Linked DNA regions of Homo sapiens. The protein of the gene in region 2 interacts with the protein of the main gene of each other region in a biochemical or structural test. Each region holds a gene or a part of one and is shown on either strand. Other genes may lie near its edges. The genes, in order: BAZ1B and KANSL1.

What was found.
Region 1: the proteins of KANSL1 (region 2) and BAZ1B form a complex in vitro, tested with the Homo sapiens proteins (one study listed by BioGRID).

Annotation. Positions count from the first base shown.
Region 1 is NC_000007.14:73,512,079-73,515,898, forward strand, and holds part of BAZ1B (tyrosine-protein kinase BAZ1B), read right to left. Parts: intron 1-3,820. UniProt on the Homo sapiens protein: Atypical tyrosine-protein kinase that plays a central role in chromatin remodeling and acts as a transcription regulator. Involved in DNA damage response by phosphorylating 'Tyr-142' of histone H2AX (H2AXY142ph).
Region 2 is NC_000017.11:46,036,110-46,039,929, forward strand, and holds part of KANSL1 (KAT8 regulatory NSL complex subunit 1), read right to left. Parts: intron 3,776-3,820; coding exon 3,593-3,775; intron 3,107-3,592; coding exon 2,918-3,106; intron 2,578-2,917; coding exon 2,429-2,577; intron 1-2,428. UniProt on the Homo sapiens protein: Non-catalytic component of the NSL histone acetyltransferase complex, a multiprotein complex that mediates histone H4 acetylation at 'Lys-5'- and 'Lys-8' (H4K5ac and H4K8ac) at transcription start sites and promotes transcription initiation.

The DNA.
Region 1 (3,820 bases), on a different chromosome or scaffold from region 2:
GAGGTGACTAGGCCACAGTCTCACAGGCAGTTTGGAATAACCTTGAGCATACATTAATGATCCATTTACCCACAGCCCTCCAGTCCACCTTGGAAACATGTTACTTCTTAGGGTTTACAAGCTTGTCCAACCTTTGTCCAACCTGCGGCCCAGGACGGCTTTGAACACAGCCCAACACAAGTTCATAAAGTTTCTTAAAACATTATGAGTTTTTTGTGTGATTTTTTTTTTTTTTAGCTGATCAACTGTTTTTAGTGTTAGTGTATTTTATGTGTGGCCCGAGACAATTCTTCTTCCAATATGGCCAAAAGATTGGCTACCCTGGTTTAAAAAATAAATTTCATAAAATACTTAGAAGTATTCCGGAAAGTACTTTTGATATAATATTTATCCAGTCTCTATGATGTCTCCAATAATACTGAGATTCAGAAGATCATTTACTAGCCGTTTAGACAGTCTTCGTGAGGGAGACGAGGGAAAGAAAAACATCAAGTTGGTAGTGTAAATATGGCAACTTTCCACACAAAACCAACTGGAATTCACCATCAGCCAGCCACTTCCAAATTCAAACGGCAAGTAACTAATTTACTTTTAAGCACAGCAACAGATGCTATGTAAGAAAATCAACTGACATAAGTAGAAAGTTAGTGAACAATACCTGTATATTCCAAGTGACACATTTTATAGTGGTTGAAATAAAAGTATTTAAACAGTTTCCTCTACAATACTATCTAACAAATAAACAAATATTCTAATTTTTGTTTTTTGGAAACAAGGCTGGCCTGTATCTCCTGAGCTCAAGAGATCCTCCTACCTTAGCCTCCTGAATAGCTGGGATTACAGACTTACACTGCAGCATCTAGCTCATTTTTATCTATTTATGTATTTATTTTTGACACAGGGTCTCACTCTGTCACCCAGGCTGAAGTGCAGTGGTGGGATCATGGCTCACTGTAGCCTTGACCTCCTGGGGTCAAGCAATCCTGGGCCTCAGCCTCCTGAGTAGCTAGGACTACAGGTGCACACCACCATGCCCACCTACATTTTTTATCTTTGCAGAGTCAGGGTCTCACCACATTGCCCAGGTTGGTCTTGAACTCCTGGGCTCAAACAGTCCTCCTGCCTCAATCTCCCAAAGTTATGGGATTACAGGTGTGAGCCACCACGCCCAGCCGCATGTTTAATAAATATAGATGCTTGGTTTTCCAAGGTTATGATCAGCAAAAACGCAAACAAGAACAAACCCACAGGTAATCCAAAATAGTAACTTTATGCAATAGTATAAGCACCTTTGCTCATTGTGGATCTTTCCCCAGATCTGCTAAAACTGAGTAATAAATCCATTTTCCTTACAGGGGTGGTGCTAATATCTAAGTGATTAAACAAAATATATAGAATGTTTGAGTAAAAACCTGAGTCAGACTTCCATATACAGATATGTAAATCCAATCACCGAAAAATTTTCAAACTTATACCCAGAGAAGAGCAACGGAACGGCTTCCAGAGGACATTATCCCAAGACGGATTTGTCTTATTTTTGTCTACTGAACTAGGGGAGTGGAAGGGATGGGTAGTAAAATAAGGACAGAGGAGGAATCAGTAAGTGGACTTATTTAAGCTTTCAAAAAGCTTGATAACATTCTAACACATTATTTAGCCATATTTAAGAAGCTCCAACAGGCATGGTAGCTTACACATGCAATCCCAGCATTTGGGAGGACAAAGTGGGGGGATCTTGAGCCCAGGGGTTCAAAACCAGCCTGAACATAGCGACTTTACAAAAAACTATTAAAAGAAAAAAAAAAACTCACTGTGTCATCAGAGAGAATGTAAGAGAAATACATTAACAAATATGTCTTAAAGAGAGAACAGTAAGTTTTTATTATTACAGGTTGAGGATCCCTTATCCAAAATGCTTAGAACCGGGAGTATTTTGGATTTTGAATTTCTTTCAGATTTTGGAGTATTTGCATTATACTTACTAGTTCAGCATCCCAAATCCAAATATCCAAAATGCTCCAATGAGCTCTTCCTTTGACGATCATGTTGGGGCTCAAAAACTTTCAGATTTTGGAGCATTTCTGATTTATGGATTTGGGATGTTCAACCTAGAGTTGTTACTTTAAAAAGCAGGGGCCAGAAAAAAACAAAACAAAAAAAAGTAGGGGCCGGCCAGGCACAGTGGCTCATGCCTATAATCCTGGCATTTTGGGAGGCCAAGGCAGGTGGATCACCTGAGGTCAGGAGTTCGAGACCAGCGTGGCCAACATGGTGAAACCCCCGTCTCTACTAAAAATACAAAAAATTAGCCAGGCGTGGTGGCGTGCGGCTGTAATCCCAGCTACTCGGGAGGCTGATGCAGGAGAACTGCTTGAACCTTGGAGACGGAGGTCGCAGTGAGCTGAGATCATGCCATTGCACTGTAGCCTGGGCAACAAGAGTGAAACTCAGTCTCAAAAAAAAAAAAAAAAACTGCATAGTGGCAGTTTATGAGGCCCAGGCACGAACATCGCTCAAGCCCAGGAGTTCAAGAGCAGCCTGGGCAACATAGCAAAACCCCATCTCTATTAAAAAAAAATTAGTTGAATGTGGTGGCACAGGCCTGTAGTTCCAGCTACTCAGGGATCTGAGGTGGGAGGATCACTTGAGCCCAGGAGGTGGAGGTTGCAGTGAGCTGTGATGGAGAGCAACAGAGGGAGACTGTCTAAAAAAAGAAGATTAGCCCGGGCATGGTGGGTCACGCCTGTAATCCCAGCACTTTGGGAGGCTGAAGTGGGTGGATCACGAGGTTAGGAGTTCAAGACCAGCCTGGCCAAGATGGTGAAACCCTGTCTCTACTAAAAAACTAGCCACGCATGGTGGCGGGCGCCTGTAATCCCAGCTACTCGGGAGGCTGAGGCAGAGAACTGCTTGAATGAGGAAGGCGGAGGTTGCAGTGAGCCAAGATCACACCGCTGTACTCCACCCTGGATGACAGAGTGAGAATCTGTCTCAAAAAAAAACAAAAAACCTCCAAACTCACACAATCACGACGAACTCATCACACCTTCTCTGCCAAGAATATACAGTCCTCTATTATTCGTCTAAATTCTAATCATCCTTTAGATCTCAAAAATAACTTTTCCCAGAAAACATTCATTGAACCTTCAAATATGATAGATTGTATTAGTTTCTAACTATTCACCTCCTTTCCATAAGAGGATTTTTACATCTCCACCCACTGCCATGTGGCTTGTCTACAAGGTCCCTGAAGAGGAATGTACCTCCCCTCTTCATTAACATCAAGCTTGACCCCGTGACTGGTTTCGACCAATAGATGTGAGCAGATGTAATATATGTCACTTCCCGGAAGAGGCTTAAAGTCATGATGTCTTCTAGCTCTTTCTTTGTGCCACTAGCAAACTAGCAAGCAAGACATGTCACACACAGGGTCTGCCCCTCCAGCCTTGTTCCTTTTTTTTTTTTTTTTTTTTTTTTGAAGCAGGGTCTTGCTCTGTCACCCAAGCTGGAGTGCAATAGCACCATCTCGCTTCACTGCAACCTTTGCCTCCTGGACTCAAGTGATCCTCCCACCTCAGCCTCCCAAGTAATTGGGACCACAGGCAAACGCCAGCATGTCCAGCTAATTTTTCTATTTTTTTTGTAGAGACAGGGTTTCATTCACTGTTGTCCAGGCTGACCTCAAATTCCTGGGCTCAAGCAATTCACCTGCCTCAGCCTCCCAAAGTGCTGGCATGAACAACCATACCAGGTGTCAGCCTTGGTCTTAAAATGAGAAAAATGTGGAAGGGTGTGGTGGCTCACGCCTGTAATCCCAGCA
Region 2 (3,820 bases):
GGTCTCACTATGTTGTCCAGGCTGGACTCAATCTCCTGGGCTGAAGAGATCTTCCTGAGTAGCTGGAGCTACAGGCATGCAATATCACAGCCAGCAACAAATCAGATCTTTAGAAGTGTCTGGTTGGTTGGTTTTGTTTTTTAAAGCTGCTGAGGTGATTCTGATGCAGCTACTGGCTTTTGGGAAGCACTGACAAAAACACTCGCTCTCCTCCCTACCTTTCTCCAGTGTCCTCTGGCTTCTTTACTTGATTTCAAGGAGAGCTGGCCCTTTGTATCCATGGGTTCAACCAATTGTGGATTGAAAATATTTGGGGGAAAAAAATTGTGTCTGTACTGAAAAGGTACAGATTTTTCTTTTCATTATTCTCTAAACAATACAGCATACTATTTTTATAGCATTTACATTGCATTAGGTATTATCAGTAATCTGGAGATGATTTAAAGTATATGGGATTTAAAGCATACACATAGGTTATATGCAAATACTATGCCATTTTATATTAGGGACATGAGCAACAATAGCTTTTGCTATCTATGGGAGGTCCTGGAACCAATCCCCACTGCAGATACTGCAGATACTGAGAGCCTGCTGTTATCTGGCCTATCTTCTTTCTTTTTTTTTTTTTGAGACGAAGTCTTGCTGCGACGCCCAGGCTTGAGTGCAATGGCTTGATCTCCGCTCACTGGAACCTCCGCTTCCCAGTTCAAGTGATTCTCCTGCCTCAGAGTAGCTGGAACTATAGGCACATGCCACCACGCCCAGTTAATTTTTGTATTTTTAGTAGGGATAGGGTTTCACCTTATTGGCCAGGATGGTCTCGAACTCCTGACCTCAAGTGATCCACCCGCCTCAGCCGCCTCCCCAAGTGCTGGGATTATAGGTGAGCGCCACTGTGCCTGGCCTATCTTCTTTTACATAAATCCAGAGTCTTTGAAAAAACTTGGCAATGAGAGAGCCTCAGGGGTTAGCATAGTGCTATACACAAAATTTTTACTCAATAAATGGTAAAAATTTCAAGTGATCCAGGCCTAAGTTAACATTCTCCAGACACAGAAATATTGAAGTGCTCACCAAGTCCTGAATCTCTGAGTTCAGATTTTCTATCAGAATTAGTTTAGACTCTTTTTTATAAATACTTTGGTTATCTGAAACCCTTTGCTGCTGGATAACTGAGTATGTGAGGGACACTACACACCTATTTAGATAAAATTTGTGGGTTACGGGGGTAAAGAAAGTCGAAGAGCAAAGAGACCATTTGGAAAAGATTGATTTGTAACAGCAAAGAGAGAACAATGTGAATTCCTACCTGATCACAGGAGCCTAGTGAGTCCATTTTATGAGCTTGGAAGTTTCCTGATCTAGGCTCTGAAGGAACTTCCTAAGTTGCCTCTGCAATACCCTCACCCAGGCTTAGCCTGTGTAGTGTAATGGTAAAAGAGCTGGCTCTACAGTCAGGCTGCCTGAGTTTGAATCATAATTATAACCCTCACAAGTTGCCTTGACAGTTTTCATGCATATAAAATGAAATCCACAGTACCAACCTACATCTCAAAAGGCATTATAACATGTAACACATGTAAATCACTGATCACTGGTATGTAGTAAGTGTTCAATAAACATTACAGTTGCAGACTTTTACATTTACCATTACATTACATTGTAATTATTATACAAAAAGGACCCTTTGAGTAGGTCCATAGCAGCTACAGGTATGTATGTTCCAAGAGGGCACACTTGAGGAATTAAAATATTAGAATGAAATTAAAGGAAATGTGTCTGGAATAGCTGTGCAAACTGCTTCCAGATGGAGTGTGGTATCGTAAAATCTGGTGTGTGCATGCCAAATGTCCTGCCATGGGGGCCTGCTGGATCTGTAATTCTGCTCTGTATACCTAAAAAGCATGGACTCTGCCTTCTCCCTTCCCTTCTCTTCTGGTACCCTCACGCCTAGTGTTTATTCTTAGTACTTCACCTCCACTCACCCAGAGAGTAAAACCAAGGAAATCAAACACTGCTTCCAACGCCCATGGGAATCTCCCCTCTACCCACCCCTCCTCTCTTGTTCACTTCTTGGGCCAACAGGATTAGGGCCACGGAACTGTTGAGTCCTGTGTGAAACTTAGTCCAACAGATCTTGAATAGTCACAGATCACCTTAAGAGTTTGTCCCTGCATCAAGCTTTCTATGGATGGCTCAGCATAAATCCATCTCTGCTATGAAAAACAACTCAAGAAAAACAACAGAAGGTCAAGTACCATGACTTTGACTTAAAAATGGTACAGACATACATACATATGTCATGATGAGCTGAGATCCTATAAATGCCCTGGGCTTTATAACCCACCCTCACACTGTCCTCTGGAGCCACTTGAGTGAGCTGTGACCTGCAGAGGGGGTGTCCGGCCAACCCCACACAGGTACTTACCGATGTGCTGGCTGTAACCTGTGAGCTAGAGCTGGCGGGTGCAGGGGAATCTGAGGAGGTGGAGAGCTGTCGCACCAAGGGACTGTGTGGAGGATGGTGGGTGGCTGCCAAGTAGCTCGAACTGCTCATGTCTGTGTGATGCTTCAACACTGCAGAAGTCAACAGAAAAGAGAGAAATACATGGCTATCTTAACCAGCGTTACTTCTAACACAAGCTTGGAATGGCAGCAATACATACTAAAGGCAAAAATGTTTTCTATGCCTAGAGGATAAAAAGGTGAAGCACACTAGCTGTGGGAAGTAGGGGCAGGGCAGAGGTTGCTGTAGCAGTTAAGAAGTGACCTCCATTTAGAAGCAGTAGCGTCCCTCTACTCTGCTTTCCTAGAAAGTGAAGGACAAAGCTGGGGGTAATTAAGAGAAGCCTAGGCTGCCCCAGAAAGCCCTGAGCAGGTGCAGTTGCAGGTAGAGGTGCCATGGGCCTGGCCCTACCTTCACTTCTCTCAGATGAATGGTCTCGCAATCTCATTTTGCTGTGGTTTGGGTCATGCACGGGTGGTGGTGGGTTGAGCAAGCGCTCTGCTTTTGGCGCTGTCACTCGCTCCACCATGGGCACGGCCCCCACATCGTCTAAGTGCTGCCTGTGGGTCCTGTCAGGCCGGGTTTGGTGATGGGACAGCTCTGAAGAGGGGAACAGAAAAAGAGCTGTGAAATATGTCCTCTCAAATATTTTCTTATTCGAGTTCCAAGCTCTCGAGTTCTCTCTAGGCCAACGCCGTATACCCAGGGCAGCAGGACAGTCCTTCAGGACTGAAGTTTCTAGTAATTTGCACAATGGCTAGGATAGGCACAGGGAGCCCAGAACCAGAGAAACATGTCACCAGGATACAGAAGACACCTGCCCGTAGATGAACTCAATGCCATGCCATTGCTGGCTGTTCACTGAGCATTTTGGGTCTTGCTCCAAGATCCATGGTGTCTAGAATAGCTCCCGAAGTCCATCTGAGAGCATCCAAGACAAGCAGAAGCAGTCACTGTGAGCTGAATTTTTTATCGGTCAACTGCCTCTCCCAACCCCAACATGCATGCAAACTACAAATTTGAGAATATAAAAGGAATGAAAAGTCACTGATACTCTGGGGGACTTCCCGGCTCCCTGACACTTACTGGCTGTTGTTAGGAAGGAGCTGACCAATTTGTGCCTGTCCTTACGAGCTGAATCTGGCAGACTGCCCGGCATGGGTGCTCTGTGCTTAAGCGATAACTTTTTGGGAGGTTTGATTTTGTCAAAAGGCTTGTTCTGCCACTGAGATTTCAGCATGCTCTGGAAATGCAGGCTTGTGGGAACATCTGCAAGAAACATAAAATGCTACAGGTTAGTCCAAACACCTGGCC